Homo sapiens: one gene and its partner. The protein of the gene in region 1 interacts with the protein of each later gene in a pairwise test. Each region holds a gene or a part of one and is shown on either strand. Other genes may lie near its edges. The genes, in order: NANOGNB and SOX4.

What was found.
Region 2: the proteins of NANOGNB (region 1) and SOX4 interact in a two-hybrid assay, tested with the Homo sapiens proteins (one study listed by BioGRID).

Annotation. Positions count from the first base shown.
Region 1 is NC_000012.12:7,760,324-7,769,852, reverse strand, and holds the start of NANOGNB (NANOG neighbor homeobox), read right to left. Parts: upstream 4,638-9,529; 5' UTR 4,568-4,637; coding exon 4,466-4,567; intron 1-4,465.
Region 2 is NC_000006.12:21,588,486-21,598,408, forward strand, and holds the start of SOX4 (transcription factor SOX-4), read left to right. Parts: upstream 1-5,265; 5' UTR 5,266-6,049; coding exon 6,050-7,474; 3' UTR 7,475-9,923. UniProt on the Homo sapiens protein: Transcriptional activator that binds with high affinity to the T-cell enhancer motif 5'-AACAAAG-3' motif. Required for IL17A-producing Vgamma2-positive gamma-delta T-cell maturation and development, via binding to regulator loci of RORC to modulate expression.

The DNA of each region.
Region 1 (9,529 bases):
CATAGAGCAAAGAAAAAGTGAACTTGAGGCTGGGCACGGTGGCTCATGCCTGTAATCCCAGCACTTTCGGAGGCTGAGGCGGGCAGATCATGAGGTCCAGAGATTGAGACCATCTTGGCTAACATGGTGAAACCCCGTCTCTACTAAAAATACAAACATTAGCCGGGCATGGTGGCACGTGCCCGTAGCCCCATGCTACTCGGGAGGCTGAGGCAGGAGGATCACTTTAACCCGGGAGGTGGTGGCTCACGCCTGTAATCCCAGCACTTTGGGAGGCCGAGGTGGGTGGATCACCTAAGGTCAGGAGATCGAGACAAGCCTGGCCAATATGGTGAAACCCCATCTCTACTAAAAATACAAAAATTAGCTGGGTGTGGTGGCATGCACCTGTAGTTCCAGCTACTTGGGAGGCTGAGGCAGGAAAATTGCTTGAACCCAGGAGGCAGAGGTTGCAGTGGGCTGAGGTTGCACCACTGCACTCCAGCCTGGCAACAGAGTGAGACTGCATCTCAAAAAAAAAAAAAAATTTGCCAGGCATGGTGGCAGGCACATATAATCCCAGCTACTTGGGAGGCTGAGGCAGGAGAATTGCTTGAACCCGGTGGGTGGAGGTTGCAGTAAGCCGATATCGCACCATTGCACTCTAGCCTGGGCAACAGGGCCAGACTCTGTCTCAAAAAAAATAAAAATAAAAATAAGAAGAAATTCATTGCAGGGAATTGTCTTACGCAATCTTGGAACTGTCTTGGCAAGTCCGAAAGGATGGCTGGAACCCTTCAGTGTGCGATGGAGCTGCTCTCCCTAGGCAGAATTTCCTCTTAAAGCCTTAACTGATTGGATTAGGCTTTCTCAGATTATAATCCCTTTTACTTGAAGACGATTAATATGGATTTTAATTACATCTAAAAATGCCAGTAACAAGGCCCGGCGTGGTGGCTCATGCCTATAATCCCAGCCCAGCCACTGCACTCCAGCCTGGGTGACAGAGCAAGACTCTGTCTCAAAAGAAAAGAAATATGCCGGCCGGGCGCGGTGGCTCACGCCTGTAATCCCAGCACTTTGGGAGGCTGAGGCGGGCAGATCACGAGGTCAGGAGATTGAGACCATCCTGGCTAACACAGTGAAACCCGGTCTCTACTAAAAATACAAAAAATTAGCGGGGCATGGCGGCGGGTGCCTGTAGTCCCAGCTACTCCGGAGGCTGAGGCAGGAGAATGGCAAGAACCAGGGAGGCGGAGCTTGCAGTGAGCTGACATCCTGCCAGCTGACATCGTGCCACTGGACTGCAGCCTGGATGACAGAGCGAGAATCCCTCTCAAAAAAAAAAAAGAAAGAAAGAAAAGAAATATGCCAGTGGCACCTAGTGTTTGATTGAATAACTGGGGTCTATAGCCTACCCAAGTTGCCACATTAAAGACCATCACACTGATACTCAAACCAGACAGATATCACCCCTAAAAAACTATAGATTAATGTCCATTATGAATATGGAGGCAAAAACTTCAACAAAATGCTAGCAATCCTAAATCCAGCAACACAGTAAAACGATTATGCACCATAACCAAGTAGGATTTATTCTAGAAATATGTGATTAGTTCAAAATAGGAAAATCAATGTAATACATCATATGAATAGAATAAAGGAAAAAAACATGCAATCATCTCAATAGAGGCAGAAAAAGACCGTTTCTCTAAAATTTAAAGTTACCATATGACCCAGCAATTGCCCCTTTAAACAAAATGTATTATATCTATACAATAGACTATTATTTAGCCACAAAAGGAAATAAAATACTGATTCATGCTCAACATGGATGAATATTGAAAACAAGCTAAGCGGGGGCTGGATGTGGTGACTCACGCCTGTAATCCCAGCACTTTGGGAGGCCGAGGCGAGAGGACTGCTTGAGCCCAGGAGTTCAAAACCAGCCTGGGCAACAGAGTGAGGTCTCCTCTCCGCAAAAAATAAAAAAATGAGGTGAGAGGATCACTTGAGTCCAGGAGGTCAAGGCTGCAGTGAGTCCTGATCATGACACTGCACTCCCACCTGGGTGACAGAGCAAGACCCTGCCACACCGGAAAAAAAAAAAAAAAAAGAGGAAAAAGGAAAGCAAGTTAAGTGAAAGTTGAAATACAAAAAGTCATATATTGTATGATTCTGTTTATATGAAATGTCCAGCATAGGCAAACCTATAGAGACAGAAAGTAAATTAGTGATTATCAGAGATGAGGGTGGGATAAAATTCGGAGTGTCTGCTAATTGGTATACATTTTCTTTTAAAAAAATAATGTATTTATTTTTAAGAGACGGCAGTGGGTGAGGTGGGATGGCAGCTAACTGTGCTGTTGTTGGTCTCGAAATCGTCAGCTTCAGTGATCTGTCCGCCTTGGCATTCCAAAGTGCTGGGATTACAGGCGTGAGCCACCACACCAGGCCACAAGTTTTCTTTTGTTAGAAAAAAAAAAAAAAAACCCTCTTGTAACCCACATCCTTCTATTGCTACCACTCCTCTTCTCAATTTCTTTTACAGAATGTGATAAAGTGTAAGAAAATTTTAAAGAGTTCTCTGTATGTGTTCTTTGCCTGTTGGTGATTTTTCTCCCCTCATTCTCTCTTGAATATTCTCCAATCAGGCTTTCACATCCACTTCCACACATTCCTCTTCAGAGTCAGACATTAATGACCCTGACATTGCAAAAAAAGTAAAATGGCTGCCAGGCACGGTGGTTCCCGCCTGTAATCCCAGCATTTTGGGAAGCCAAGGCAGGCAGATCACCTGAGGCCAGGAGTTTGAGACCAGCTTGGCCAACATGGTGAAACCCTGTCTCTACTAAAAATACAAAAATTAGCTAGGCTTGGTGGCGCACGCCTGTAGTCCCAGCTACTTGAGAAGTTGAGGCAGGAGAATCGCTTGAACCCGGGAGGCAAAGATTGCAGTGAGCTGAGATCGCCCCACTGTGCTCCAGCCTGGGCAACAGAGCAAAACTCAGTCTCAAAACAAACAAACAAACAACAACAAAACAAAGGCCAGGCGTGGAGGGTCACTCCTGTAATCGCAGCACTTTGGGAGGCCGAAGTGGGTGGACCACTTGAGGTCAGGAGTTCAGGACCAGCCTGGCCAACATGGTGAAACCCCGTCTCTATTAAAAATACAAAAAACTAATCGGACATGTCTTTTGAACCCCGGGAGGGGGAGGTCGCAGTTAGTTGAGATTGTGCCACTCCAGCCTGGGCAACAGAACAAGACTGTGACTCAAGAAACAAAAACAAAAGAAAAGAAATCAAATGGCCAATTTCCCATCCCCATTTTCTTTTAAGGGTATCGTGGTGGTGAGATAGTGGGTTTGTTTTGTTTTGTTTGTTTGCTGTTTTGTTTTGTTGAGACGGAGTCTCACTCTGAAGCCCAGACTGGAGTGCAGTGGCTGGATCTCAGCTCACCACAACCTCTGCCTTCTGGGCTCGAAGGATTCTCTTGCCTCAGCCTCCTGAGTAGCTGGGACTACAGGCGTGCCTCACCAAGCCCGGCTAATTGTTGTATTTTTGGTGGAGATGGGGGGTTTCATCATCTTGGCCAGGATGGTCTTCAACTCCTGAGCTCAAGCGATCTGCCCCGCTTGGCCTCCCAAAGTGCTGGGATTTGAGGTGTGAGCCACTGTGCCTGGCCTGTCCCCATCTTACTTACTTGAATGATCAGGGGCTTCTGAAGTATCGGGATCTCTCTCCACATTGAAAGAGTTTATTCTCCCACTTCCTGAACACCATCCTTTCCTGGGGCTTCCTCAAGTCAATGGCTGCTCTTTCAAAGCTTTCTTTGTTGCTCCTCTTTCCCCTACTGATTTCTGTCCCTGTGCTTTTTCAATCACACTCAAGGTTAAATCCCTTCACCTCTTATCTCCTTTACATGTAGCTCTAATCCAGGTCATCTAATCTCATGGTTTTTAATACTGCCCAAAAGGGAGATTATTTTCAAATTTTTATTTCCAGTCTTCTATGTCAAACTCCCAATTCAATATCTCTGCTTGGATGTCTAATAAGTTATGTGAATTGAACTTAAAATTCCCAAACTCAGTTTATGGCTCCCTTCACTGAACGCTGACCCACTCAGGCCTCTCTATCTTAGTAAAGCCAACTCCATCTGCCCAGTGGTTTGAGTCAAAAAGCTTGGTGCTGTCTTTCACTTCTTCCCTTTCTCATAGCTCAACTCAATCTGTCAGAAAGTCTTGCTTTTCTTTCTTTAAAATATATCCAGACAACTGCCACTTCTTTTTTTTTTTTTTTTTTTTGAGACGGAGTCTCACTCTGTCGCCCAGGCTGGAGTGCAGTGGCGCGATCTCGGCTCACTGCAAGCTCCGCCTCCCGGGTTCACGCCATTCTCCCGCCTCAGCCTCCAGAGTAGCTAGGACTACAGGCGCCCGCCACCACGCCCAGCTAATTTTTTGTATTTTTAGTAGAAACGGGGTTTTACCTTGTTAGCCAAGATGGTCTCGATTTCCTGACCTCGTGATCTGCCCGCCTCGGCCTCCCAAAGTGCTGGGATTACAGGCGTGAGCCACCGCGCCCGGTGCATTGAGGAGTTTTAAAGACCAATTAGTCCTTGGTAGGGAGGTTACAGAGATGACCGACCAGATAAGGTAGATGTCATCCATCTTTTGGATGTCAGTGGGCCACAAATATGAGCACCCAGTGGCAATTCACAAAAGGAATTCCACAAAAAGAACACATTTCCTGACATCTATTTTTGGAGCCATGAAGAAAAAAAACTTTTCAAATAGCCATATGAAAAATGTTCAATTTACATGTTGCAGAGTGTCCCAAATAGTGAGATATACTGATAAGAAAATGCTTTCCAAAATACAGTGGAGAGACAGGAAAAAAAAAATGTAGGGCTGGGCGTGGTGGCTCATGCCTGTAATCCTAGCACTTTGGGAGGTCAAGGCGGGCAGATCATTTAAGATCAGAAGTTCAAGACCAGCCTGACCAACATGGTAAAACTCCATCTCTACTAAAAATACAAAACTTAGCTTGTGTAGAAGTACGTGCTTGTGATCCCAGCTACTTGGAGGCTGAGGCAGGAGAATCGCTTGAACCTAAGAGGCAGAGGTTGCAGTGAGCCAAGATACTGCCACTGCACTCCATTCGGGGACAGACAGTGAGACTCCATGTTAAAAATAAATAAATACATAAATATTTTATGAAAATGCTACTTGGTCGGGTGAGGTGTCTCACATCTGTAATCCTAGTATTTTGGAAGGCCAAGGCAGAAGAATTGTTTGAGCTCAGGAGTTCAAGAACAGCTTGGGCATCACGGTGAGACCCCTGATTCCATTATTATTATTATTATTATTATTATTATTATTATTATTATTTTAATTTTTGAGACGAAGTCTCCTTTCTTGTCCCCCAGGCTGGAGTGCAATGGTGCAATCTTGGCTCACTGCAACCTCCGCCTCCCAGGTTCAAGCGATTCTCCTGCCTCAGCTTCCCGAGTAGCTGGGATTACAGGCACCTGCCACCACGCCCGGGTAATTTTTGTATTTTTAGTGGAGACAGGGTTTCACCATGTTGGCCAGGCTGGCCTCGAATTCCTGACATGAGGTGATCTTCCTGCCTTGGCCTCCCAAAGTGCTGGGATTACAGGTGTGAGCCACCGCTGCCCAGCCCATTTTATTTATTTATTTATTTATTTATTTATTTATTTATTTATTTATTTTTGAGACAGAGTCTTACTCTGTCACCAGGCTGGAGTGCACTTGTGTGATCTCGGCTCACTGCAACCTCCACCTCCCAGTTTCAAGTGATTCTCCTACCTCAGCTCCAAGTAGCTGGGATTACAACCAAGTGCCACTATGCCCAGCTAATTTTTTGTATTTTTAGGAGAGATGAGGGTTTCTCCATGTTGGCCAGGCTGGTTTGGAATTCCTGACCTCAAGCGATCTGCCTGCCTTGGCCTCCCAAAGTACTGGGATCATAGGCATGAACCATCGTGCCTGGCCTCCGACTATACTCTTACCTGGTCACACAACCAGCCTCACACTCTGGTAGAAGAAACCACTTGTTAACCACTTGTTAACCACTTCGTTAATCTCAGCTAAGAGAAGAGAATTTTATTTTATTTTATTTCATTTCATTTATTTATTTATTTATTTTTGAGACGGAGTCTTGCTCTGTCACCCAGGCTGGAGTGCAGTGGCATGATCTTGGCTCACTGCAAGCTCCGCCTCCCGGGTTCACACCATTCTCCTGCCTCATCCTCCCAAGTAGCTGGAACTACAGGCGCCCGCCACCACGCCCGGCTAATAATTTTTTGTAGTTTTAGTAGAGACGGGGTTTCACCATGTTAGCCAGGATGGTCTCAATCTCCTGACCTCGTGATCCGTCTGCCTCAGCCTCCGAAAGTGCTGGGATTACAGGCGTGAGCCACCGCGCCCGGCAGAGAAGAGAATTTTAAAGAATCACTGAAGACCGAGTGCGGTGGCTCATGCTTGTAATCCCAGCACTTTGGGAGGCTGAGGCAGGCGGATCATTTGAGGTCTGGAGTTCGAGACCAGCCTGGCCAACATGGTGGAATCACATCTCTACTAAAAATACAAAAATTAGCTTGGCGTGGTGGCACACCCCGTAATCCCAGCTACTCCAGAGGCTAAGGCAAGAGAATTGCTTGAATCTAGGAGGTGAAGGTTGCAGTGAGCTGAGATCACGCGACAGCACTCCAGCCTGGGTGACAGAGCAAGACTCTGTCTCAAAAAAAAAAAAAAAAAAAATCACTCAAAGTTTGACTTTTGTGTTTGGGGATACCCAGGATCCGACACCTGACTCAAGCATGACAATGTTGAAAAGTGAGAGGCAATCAGGAGCTGTCCACGGTGGCTAAATGTGGACAGGAGGTCTCTGTTCGTCATGGTCGCTGGTAGTCCCCTCAGATGCAGGTAAGCTAGGGGAGTAAACATTTGATAGGGGCTGCTTTTGAGCTGTCCTGGGCACATTAGAGTTGCTGCCTATGGCCTTACAGGTCTTCCATCCTAGCAGCTCCTCTTGAAAGGAACACGGACATCAGAAGCTGGGGGCTGAGGAGGGAGTTCCACAGGCCAGCTGTAAGAGATAAGTTCCCAAAAAGCAAATTCGGGGAATAGGCACTCATAGGGAAGAGATCTTCAAAAGCAACAGAGAAGGCCGGGTGCGGTGGCTCACGCCTGTAATCCCAGCACTTTCAGAGGCCGAGGCAGGTAGATGACGAGGTCAGGAGTTCAAGACCAGCCTGGCCAACATGGTGAAACCCTGTCTTTACTAAAAAATACGAAAATTAGGCTGGGCACAGTGGCTCACGCCTGTAATTTCAGCACTTTGGGAGGCCGAGGCAGGTGGATCATCAGGTCAGGAGTTCGAGACCAGCCTGACAAACATGGTGAAACCCCGTCTCTATTAAAAACACAAAAAAATTAGCAGAGTGTGGTGTCGCATGCCTGTAATCCCAGCTACTTAGGAGCTGAGGAAGGAGAATCTCTTGAACCTGGGAGGCAGAGATTACAGTAAGCCAAGATTGTGCCACTGTACTCCAGCCTGGGTGACAGAGCAAGAGTACATCTCCAAAAAAAAAAAATTAGTTGGGTGTGGTGGCACGCAACTGTAGTCCCAGCTACTCAGGAGGCTGAGTCAGGAGAATTGCTGGTACCTGGGAGGTGGAGGTTGCAATTAGCCAAGATCCGGCCACTGCACTCCAGCCTGGGCGACAGAGCAAGACTCTGTCTTAAAAAAAAAAAAAAAAGGGCTGGGCATGGTGGCTCATGCATGTAATGCCAGCACTTTGGGAGGCCGAGGCGGGTGGATCATGAGGTCAGGAGATCAAGACCATCCTGGCTAACACGGTGAAACCCAGTCTCTACTAAAAAATACAAAAAAAAAAAAAAAAAAAGCCGGGCGCGGTGGCTTACGCCTGTAATCCCAGCACTTTGGGAGGCCGAGGTGGGCAGATCACAAGGTCAGGAGATCGAGACCATCCTGGCTAACACGGTGAAACCCCGTCTCTACTAAAAAATACAAAAAATTAGCCGGGCGTGGTGGTGGGTGCCTGTAGTCCAAGCTACTCGGGAGGCTGAGGCAGGAGAATGGCGTGAACCTGGGAGGCGGAGCTTGCAGTGAGCCGAGATCATGCCACTGCACTCCAGCCTGGGCGGCAAAGCGAGACTCCCTCTCTAAAAAAAAAAAAAAAAGCAACAGAGAAATCTGGGCTCGGTGGCTCACACCTGTAATCCTAGCACTTTGGGAGGCTGAGGTGGGTGGATCACCTGAGATTAGGAGTTCGAGACCAGGCTGGGTAACATGGTGAAATCCCGTCTCTACTAAAAATACAAAAAAATTAGCCAGGCATGGTGGCAGGCGCCTGTAGTCCCAGCTACTGGGGAGGCTGAGGCAGGAGAATGGCGTGAACTCAGGAGGTGGAGCTTGCAGTGAGCCTCGATCGCGCCACTGTGCCCCAGCCTGGGCGACAGAGTGAGACTCCGTCTCAAATAAAAAGAAAAAAAAAAAAAAAAGAAACAGAGACCTGGCTTGGTGGCTCATGCCTGTAATCCCAGCTACTTGGGAGACTGAGGCAGGAGAATGGCTTGAACCTGGGAGGCAGAGGTTGCAGTGAGCTGAGATCGCGCCACTGCACTACAGCCTGGGCAACAAGAGGGAAGCTCCATTCCCGCCCCCCGTCCCCCCAAAAAAGAGAGAGAGAGATCCTCCTGCCTCGGCCTCCCAAAGTGCTGGGATTACAGGCATTAGCCACTGTGCCCGGCTGAGAATGGATTTTTAAATACCTAAATAAAGGTAATTATTTGTTAGGAAGCAAGAGAGACTGGAAAGGCTCTGGGATCTGCTTGAGATTTCCTCTGGGGTCAGGGCAAGGCAAGTCAACAGAACAGGTTAAAGGGACAGTTATCGACAGAGAATAATATGCTCCTGTTCTAACCCTTCCAAGTTCACCTTATCCAAAAGCAATTAGGCTCTGATGAGTATTTTATTCCCTTGCAGATGCATCTTATGAAAATAGAGATTTGGGCAGGTGTGGTGGCTCACGCCTGTAATCCCAGCACTTTGGGAGGCCGAGATGGGCGGATCACGAGGTCAGAAGTTTGAAACCATCCTGGCTAACACGGTGAAACCCCGTCTCCACTAAAAATACAAAAAATTAGCCGAGCGTGGTGGTGGGTGTCTGTAGTCCCAGCTACTTGGGAGGCTGAGGCAGGAGAATGGTGTAAATCTGGGAGGCAGAGCTTGCAGTGAGCCGAGATCGCGCCACTGTACTCCAGCCTGGGCGACAGAGTGAGACTCCATCTCAAAAAGAAAAAAAAAGAAAATAGAGATTTAACCCTTGGCAGAGAATATGGAGCAGAGGCTAGAGAAGGCTTAGACTAGTAAGAACTGAAATGGACATTTCAGGCCTATGATGATAGCTACATCACATATTCCCCCGTTTTGTGTATAAACCAGCTGACACTTTGAGAGGGTAAGTGACATGTCTTAGGTACACAGCTTAGAAAGTGGCAAA
Region 2 (9,923 bases), on another chromosome or scaffold:
CATCTCCAAGGGCCAGGGGATGGGGTAGGAGGACGGAGGAGCCAAGCTCCTGGGAAACGACCCCCCCAACCTATCCGCGACCGGTTGCAAATTCAAAGGAGGGCTGGGAGCCCGCGAGGGTGCGGGAGGTGTCCTCGCTTGGGCTGCGTCTGCGCCCGCGTTTGTGTGTGTGTGCGCGCGCGTGTCTTCAGCTCCTTCCCCGGTCGTAAAACCTAAACGGAAGACGGGTGTTAAAATGCTGCTGACAGGATCGCCTGAAACATGTTTACAGTAGGAAGGACTTTCCTCCAGAAAGCACAGTCTGAGTCGATTCCAATTTATTTCCTCCCTGTAACTGTAAGCGAAAGGAGAGGTTCGGCTGCCGCGGCGGAGCGAGGCTGAGCACCATTAATCCTTGGCGAGCTTAAGCCAGGGAGAGCGCCGTGCCTGCGAGACCGAGTCGCTGCGCTCCGGAAGGCGTTCTGCCTGAAGGAAACCTCTTTTTTTTTTTTTTTTTTTTTTTTTTTTTTTGAGTAGGGAGTGGCCTTTGCACTGGAGTCCTTAAGTAAGGCGCGTCGTTTCTCTGCAGCCGCTCTCGGAAGCCGGAGAAACTGCATTCACTTTAGCAAGAAGACAGGGAAACTGAAATTGATAATCCCCCGAGTTGGGTTACCTGATCCAGACAGGAAGCTGGTCTAGGCTTCCCCCGTCACCCGGAGCTCCTGACAAGTGAGCAGGAGGCGGCGGGTGGTTGCCCTAAACTTTGATTTATGAAAAAAAATCAGAATTCATCGACATACCCTGTTACTCGTTGAGCGTTTAAGCCTCTAACTAAAGAAGGTACAGTGGTAGGGAGTGGTAGGGGGGTCGGGAGAGGAGGAAGGGGGAGAAGAAAGAAGACTGACTATCCCCACGATTTCCTACCTCGCCTCGCGGGCGCAGGGAGGCTCAGCGATGCCACCTGGCGGCTGCTTCTCCCCAGATTGGGAGCCGGCTGGCTGCAGACAAACCCAGGCTCTCCCCGGGTGCCGTGCCTCTGCCTCTAGAATAGAAGCAGAAGCCTGTATTCATGCTTGCAATCCAAGTGGCCCTGCAAACATTCGTCTTCTGCTTGTTTTCTTGAGAAAATCGAAGGAAAGGAATAATGAGTTGGCATTGGCATGAACAGCTTAAGCCTACTGTGTGCTAGTCACTGGTTATGAGAGGAAAATGGTACAATTGTTAGAAATGCAGGTTTCTTAACTCTTAGCTTATTCTAGTGATAAAAATAAATGCTAGGTTTCATTTACCCCAGAATCCTATTTTGATATTTTGCAAATATGAGTTATTTCCATATATTATTTTTCAATGCACGCACCCCCACCCCCATTACGCGCTGAGCCCAGTTACAATGCAATGTCATCAGCCCAAAAGGATGAAGTGCAAGTTATGTTTGTCTACTTGACTGAGAAGTAAATCAGCCTCACATGGAGGCTTCTTTTCCATAAAGTGTGGAACCAAAAAAACTGGCGCCTTTCAGTTGACAAAGGCCAATGACATCAGATTTCCCAGGGCTTCTTCCTTGTCAGGTAAAGTAACAACTACACAGTTTTTCCTCCTCTTTATTTTATTTGAACTGAATACTTGTCAGGTCTGACTAGCGCCTACAATCATAGTTTCTATAACCAAGGCAAGGCAAAATCTTGCAAATCAGTGCAAATCCAGATTTGTTAAACTAATTTCCATTCAGGTCCCTCCCTCCATGCCAAAGGAATATATTAAGCAGTGGAATAGAATCTTATTTCATCTATGCCCCATACCATTGTATGGATGTGAGATTTTATGTTGTGTAGATGTGTGAGAGCAGAAGAAATGCATTAGCAGATATTACACTTACATCTCAAATGGAATTCCATCATTTAAGGGAATAAAATAAAATACCTAATTCAAAATTGGAAATGTCTAACATCATTGCTAACAAAGACAGTTTATTATTCTAAACCAGGATTTTTTTTTTCTGCAAAATTATCTTGGCTTTCTCTTAATACAGCTAAAAGACTAGCATTAAGAATTACTTCATGTACTGCAAAGCCAGCAGAGGGAACACTGCGTACTGATTTAGTAGGGGCCACCAAATATCTGGTATTTGGGGAAAAAAATGTCAGTAATGGAGAACTGATTACAGAGCATATGAAGTTAGGGAATGAGAAGGGAGAAATCTTTTCTCATTATTTGGTATTGAGAGGTCCAACACATTCCAGTGTGCACACACTTAGTTGGTCACAAAGATGACTTTAATAAAAGGGCATTCGTCATATGTTTTCTTACATTCTAAGAGAACTAACCCATTAGAACAGATCTATTTCAGAAGTCTAGGCACTTGTGTAATATATAAATATATATGCAGTAATTATAAAGTCAATGGAAGTTACTGATACCATATTTCATCAAGTCTAAGAGGAAATTTTTCTTTTCATTTCAACTCTTCCTGAAATAAGGAGGCATCCTACATCTAGGGGGATATCACAGTTTCATTGGCAGCTTTCTTCCTTGGTGGAATGTAATATAATGGTGTGTCTTAAAATTTGTTGGATTTGTTGAAATACAGAAAATACATGTAACAAAAGAATGAGGCCAGTGGCTGTGTTTTAGTACACCCTTTAAAAAATCCATGTGTTTTAAGCAGAAACATATATGACTGCTTTAACTTCCACTCTTCCCTATCATATTCGATGATGGAAGCATAAATGACTGAGAAATATAATCAATAATGTTGATACTCAACTTGACTGAATTATCAAACTAGCTACACCCTCAAATCATTAGTTAGTACAAATTCAAAAATAAATATTCTTTTTTATTCTAGTGAAAATATTGATCTTATAGATAATAGCCCTCTTAAAATAATTTTTTTTTGTCAGATTGGTAACATTTAAGGATGTGTTTCTATGCACACCAGAGAAAATGTAGTATATAACACAGCAACACTGTTATGCAAAAAAGGTGCCTGTGTGTTTTTGGTTTGGGTTTTTCTTTTTTTAAGGATTTGTTTCTCCTTTTTTAAAAAAATTATGTAATACAAGTAGCTAATCGTCAAAAATTATTTGCTTTTACCCACAAAAACAGTTTTGCTTGTGGTTGATCCTTACAGATCCAGTCAGATGGCTACATAGGGTGTTCTTTCCAGTAAAATTCTAAGTCTGACAACCTGGGCCTATTGCCAGCCTACATACTTTAAAAGTTTGACAAGATACATAGAAATTTACTACCCAGCACTAGTTTAATCTGAATCAAAAGCCGACTTAATTATTTTGGATTGACTTTACCTAACCACTTATGGTTAGCCTGAAGAATATTAGTTTCCTATTATAGTGTTAAGGAAAGCTGATTTTTACTACAATTCTAATTTTCAGACACTGGAAAACAAGTAATTTCTGTAGCCAACGTTTATTTTGAATACCTTGGCATCCTTTCTTTGCCACATTCTTCTTAGTATTCTTCATGGAGTTCCTTTCTTTTAAAATCAATGGAATGGCAGGGTTGCCACTATTGTCCTTCTATGGTTCACATCAATGATCTGTGATTACTTTTTTTTTTTTTTTGAGATAGTCACACGCTATCACCCACACTGGAGTGCAGTGGCTCAATCTTAGCTCACTGCAACCTCCTGGGTTCAAGCAATTCTCCCGCCTTAGCTTCTCGAGTAGCTGGAATTACAGGCGCATGCATCCCTGCCCAGCTAATTTTTTAATTTTTTAATTTTTAGTAGAGACAGGGTTTCACCATGTTGACCAGGCTGGTCTCGAACTCCTGACCTGAAGTGATCCACCCACCTTAGCCTCCCAAAGTGCTGGGATTACAGGCGTGAGCCACCGCGTCCTGCCTGTTATTACTTTTTTACATAAGTGGCTATTCTGTTTTAGCCTCTTGAACAACATGCAGCTTTTACTAGGAGTGTGTCTGGCATTTGAATTAGAAAGGAAGATATTAGTATTCATTGAGGGCTTACAATACATCAGGTGCTTCATAGTCACAAATTCATTGAACCCTCACAACAACCCTCTATAAAGTAGCTCCTAGTGTTCCCATATAATAGATGAGGAAAACTGAGACTTGGCCACATCCCCATAGTTACAAACCATTAAGAAGGATTAGCAGCCAGGTCTACTATGAATCCGGAGGCCCCATTCTCTTCTGCTACCAGTTATCACCTCCTTCTACAGTTTCTCTTTGCCTTGGTTTTTCAGTTCCCTTCGATTCAAGTAACAAGAGGAAATATATAAGAAGGAAAGGAGGAAGATGGCTTTGGGAGGAGGAGAGGGAAGAGAGTGAAGCAATCTTTAATTTTGAAAACAGGGAAAACAAATATTTAGAAAGTAAAACCGATTTCCATCCTTTACATGCCATTATACATCCTATACAAAACTCTGGAAATCTGCCTATTGAGGTAATTACGGAGCACTACCTAATGTGTTTCAAGGGAAAGCTCCCCTGTTTGGGCTATGCAGGATTTACAGGGAGTTTAAATCATTAAATAACCATAGTTGACCCTTGCTTGGTTAAGAGAGTAAGCAATTATTGCAAAGTCCTCTTCCCTGCCTTCCACAAACAGCACAAAAACGGTTCTGAAGGGATTTACACAATACATCAACATCTGTGCTGTACCTAGAGTTGTTAAAATAATTGTGATGACAGGTGTCTAGGTACCACTTTCTTAATGGTTTTCAATATCCATTGATTTATTGTTTTGTGGCTTTCTCTTCCCCTTTACAGCTTTGGCTTTAAGAAAGAGCTGGGGAACAGATTTTGCACCAGAGGCTGATTCTTTATTCCAATGCTGAAAAGAACTAATAAAAATAATCACTTGGCTTTTAAGCAGAAAGCTTCCATTTACAGTATTTCACCCTTACCCCGCCCCGTTCCAAGCCCCTTGTTATCTAACATAATGGTTAGAATACATTTCCGTCTCTCCCCTTAATAATTTCATGCATTAACATCCTCTTCACACACTATACACACACGCACGCGCGCACACACACGCGCGCGCACACACACAGCAAAAGGAAAAAAGAGGCAGCAGAAATCTCAGCTGTACTTCTAGCCCTTTTAAAAAGTTTGCTCTGTAAATTGGAATGAGGTCAGATTTGGAGCTTCTCATTGCACGCGGAGATTATTATTGCATCGGGTTCCAAGCCAATGGGAAGCCCGGGGGAGGGGTTTGGCATGAGGAAGCGTTGGTTACAGCAGCTGATTGGCTGCAGCCAAGACTGTGAAAGGATAAAGAGGCGCGAGGCGGAATTGGGGTCTGCTCTAAGCTGCAGCAAGAGAAACTGTGTGTGAGGGGAAGAGGCCTGTTTCGCTGTCGGGTCTCTAGTTCTTGCACGCTCTTTAAGAGTCTGCACTGGAGGAACTCCTGCCATTACCAGCTCCCTTCTTGCAGAAGGGAGGGGGAAACATACATTTATTCATGCCAGTCTGTTGCATGCAGGCTTTTTGGCTTCCTACCTTGCAACAAAATAATTGCACCAACTCCTTAGTGCCGATTCCGCCCACAGAGAGTCCTGGAGCCACAGTCTTTTTTGCTTTGCATTGTAGGAGAGGGACTAAGTGCTAGAGACTATGTCGCTTTCCTGAGCTACCGAGAGCGCTCGTGAACTGGAATCAACTGCTTCAGGGAAAAAGAAAAAAAAAAAAAAAAGACTTGCCTGGGAGGCCGCGAGAAACTTGCATTGGAAGCTTCAGCAACCAGCATTCGAGAAACTCCTCTCTACTTTAGCACGGTCTCCAGACTCAGCCGAGAGACAGCAAACTGCAGCGCGGTGAGAGAGCGAGAGAGAGGGAGAGAGAGACTCTCCAGCCTGGGAACTATAACTCCTCTGCGAGAGGCGGAGAACTCCTTCCCCAAATCTTTTGGGGACTTTTCTCTCTTTACCCACCTCCGCCCCTGCGAGGAGTTGAGGGGCCAGTTCGGCCGCCGCGCGCGTCTTCCCGTTCGGCGTGTGCTTGGCCCGGGGAACCGGGAGGGCCCGGCGATCGCGCGGCGGCCGCCGCGAGGGTGTGAGCGCGCGTGGGCGCCCGCCGAGCCGAGGCCATGGTGCAGCAAACCAACAATGCCGAGAACACGGAAGCGCTGCTGGCCGGCGAGAGCTCGGACTCGGGCGCCGGCCTCGAGCTGGGAATCGCCTCCTCCCCCACGCCCGGCTCCACCGCCTCCACGGGCGGCAAGGCCGACGACCCGAGCTGGTGCAAGACCCCGAGTGGGCACATCAAGCGACCCATGAACGCCTTCATGGTGTGGTCGCAGATCGAGCGGCGCAAGATCATGGAGCAGTCGCCCGACATGCACAACGCCGAGATCTCCAAGCGGCTGGGCAAACGCTGGAAGCTGCTCAAAGACAGCGACAAGATCCCTTTCATTCGAGAGGCGGAGCGGCTGCGCCTCAAGCACATGGCTGACTACCCCGACTACAAGTACCGGCCCAGGAAGAAGGTGAAGTCCGGCAACGCCAACTCCAGCTCCTCGGCCGCCGCCTCCTCCAAGCCGGGGGAGAAGGGAGACAAGGTCGGTGGCAGTGGCGGGGGCGGCCATGGGGGCGGCGGCGGCGGCGGGAGCAGCAACGCGGGGGGAGGAGGCGGCGGTGCGAGTGGCGGCGGCGCCAACTCCAAACCGGCGCAGAAAAAGAGCTGCGGCTCCAAAGTGGCGGGCGGCGCGGGCGGTGGGGTTAGCAAACCGCACGCCAAGCTCATCCTGGCAGGCGGCGGCGGCGGCGGGAAAGCAGCGGCTGCCGCCGCCGCCTCCTTCGCCGCCGAACAGGCGGGGGCCGCCGCCCTGCTGCCCCTGGGCGCCGCCGCCGACCACCACTCGCTGTACAAGGCGCGGACTCCCAGCGCCTCGGCCTCCGCCTCCTCGGCAGCCTCGGCCTCCGCAGCGCTCGCGGCCCCGGGCAAGCACCTGGCGGAGAAGAAGGTGAAGCGCGTCTACCTGTTCGGCGGCCTGGGCACGTCGTCGTCGCCCGTGGGCGGCGTGGGCGCGGGAGCCGACCCCAGCGACCCCCTGGGCCTGTACGAGGAGGAGGGCGCGGGCTGCTCGCCCGACGCGCCCAGCCTGAGCGGCCGCAGCAGCGCCGCCTCGTCCCCCGCCGCCGGCCGCTCGCCCGCCGACCACCGCGGCTACGCCAGCCTGCGCGCCGCCTCGCCCGCCCCGTCCAGCGCGCCCTCGCACGCGTCCTCCTCGGCCTCGTCCCACTCCTCCTCTTCCTCCTCCTCGGGCTCCTCGTCCTCCGACGACGAGTTCGAAGACGACCTGCTCGACCTGAACCCCAGCTCAAACTTTGAGAGCATGTCCCTGGGCAGCTTCAGTTCGTCGTCGGCGCTCGACCGGGACCTGGATTTTAACTTCGAGCCCGGCTCCGGCTCGCACTTCGAGTTCCCGGACTACTGCACGCCCGAGGTGAGCGAGATGATCTCGGGAGACTGGCTCGAGTCCAGCATCTCCAACCTGGTTTTCACCTACTGAAGGGCGCGCAGGCAGGGAGAAGGGCCGGGGGGGGTAGGAGAGGAGAAAAAAAAAGTGAAAAAAAGAAACGAAAAGGACAGACGAAGAGTTTAAAGAGAAAAGGGAAAAAAGAAAGAAAAAGTAAGCAGGGCTGGCTTCGCCCGCGTTCTCGTCGTCGGATCAAGGAGCGCGGCGGCGTTTTGGACCCGCGCTCCCATCCCCCACCTTCCCGGGCCGGGGACCCACTCTGCCCAGCCGGAGGGACGCGGAGGAGGAAGAGGGTAGACAGGGGCGACCTGTGATTGTTGTTATTGATGTTGTTGTTGATGGCAAAAAAAAAAAAGCGACTTCGAGTTTGCTCCCCTTTGCTTGAAGAGACCCCCTCCCCCTTCCAACGAGCTTCCGGACTTGTCTGCACCCCCAGCAAGAAGGCGAGTTAGTTTTCTAGAGACTTGAAGGAGTCTCCCCCTTCCTGCATCACCACCTTGGTTTTGTTTTATTTTGCTTCTTGGTCAAGAAAGGAGGGGAGAACCCAGCGCACCCCTCCCCCCCTTTTTTTAAACGCGTGATGAAGACAGAAGGCTCCGGGGTGACGAATTTGGCCGATGGCAGATGTTTTGGGGGAACGCCGGGACTGAGAGACTCCACGCAGGCGAATTCCCGTTTGGGGCTTTTTTTTCCTCCCTCTTTTCCCCTTGCCCCCTCTGCAGCCGGAGGAGGAGATGTTGAGGGGAGGAGGCCAGCCAGTGTGACCGGCGCTAGGAAATGACCCGAGAACCCCGTTGGAAGCGCAGCAGCGGGAGCTAGGGGCGGGGGCGGAGGAGGACACGAACTGGAAGGGGGTTCACGGTCAAACTGAAATGGATTTGCACGTTGGGGAGCTGGCGGCGGCGGCTGCTGGGCCTCCGCCTTCTTTTCTACGTGAAATCAGTGAGGTGAGACTTCCCAGACCCCGGAGGCGTGGAGGAGAGGAGACTGTTTGATGTGGTACAGGGGCAGTCAGTGGAGGGCGAGTGGTTTCGGAAAAAAAAAAAGAAAAAAAGAAAAAAAAAGAAAAAAAAAAGATTTTTTTCTTCTCTTAATCGGAATCGTGATGGTGTTGGATTATTTCAATGGTGGGGTTAATATAGCATGTTATCCTGTCTATCTTTTAAAGATTTCTGTATAAGACTGTTGAGCAGTTTTTAAAATAGTGTAGGATAATATAAAAAGCAGATAGATGGCGCTATGTTTGATTCCTACAACGAAATTATCACCAGCTTTTTTTCATTCTTAACTCTTTAAAGGATTCAAACGCAACTCAAATCTGTGCTGGACTTTAAAAAAACAATTCAGGACCAAATTTTTTCTCAGTGTGTGTGTTTATTCCTTATAGGTGTAAATGAGAAGACGTGTTTTTTTCCTTCACCGATGCTCCATCCTCGTATTTCTTTTTCCTTGTAAATGTAATCAGATGCCATTTTATATGTGGACGTATTTATACTGGCCAAACATATTTTTTCTTTTGTCCCTTTTTTTCTTTCCTTTCTTTTTACTTCCTTTATTTCTTTATTCCTTCCTTTTCCTTTTTTTCTTTTTTTTTTCTTTTTTTTTTTTTTTTTTTGGTAGTTGTTGTTACCCACGCCATTTTACGTCTCCTTCACTGAAGGGCTAGAGTTTTAACTTTTAATTTTTTATATTTAAATGTAGACTTTTGACACTTTTAAAAAACAAAAAAAGACAAGAGAGATGAAAACGTTTGATTATTTTCTCAGTGTATTTTTGTAAAAAATATATAAAGGGGGTGTTAATCGGTGTAAATCGCTGTTTGGATTTCCTGATTTTATAACAGGGCGGCTGGTTAATATCTCACACAGTTTAAAAAATCAGCCCCTAATTTCTCCATGTTTACACTTCAATCTGCAGGCTTCTTAAAGTGACAGTATCCCTTAACCTGCCACCAGTGTCCACCCTCCGGCCCCCGTCTTGTAAAAAGGGGAGGAGAATTAGCCAAACACTGTAAGCTTTTAAGAAAAACAAAGTTTTAAACGAAATACTGCTCTGTCCAGAGGCTTTAAAACTGGTGCAATTACAGCAAAAAGGGATTCTGTAGCTTTAACTTGTAAACCACATCTTTTTTGCACTTTTTTTATAAGCAAAAACGTGCCGTTTAAACCACTGGATCTATCTAAATGCCGATTTGAGTTCGCGACACTATGTACTGCGTTTTTCATTCTTGTATTTGACTATTTAATCCTTTCTACTTGTCGCTAAATATAATTGTTTTAGTCTTATGGCATGATGATAGCATATGTGTTCAGGTTTATAGCTGTTGTGTTTAAAAATTGAAAAAAGTGGAAAACATCTTTGTACATTTAAGTCTGTATTATAATAAGCAAAAAGATTGTGTGTATGTATGTTTAATATAACATGACAGGCACTAGGACGTCTGCCTTTTTAAGGCAGTTCCGTTAAGGGTTTTTGTTTTTAA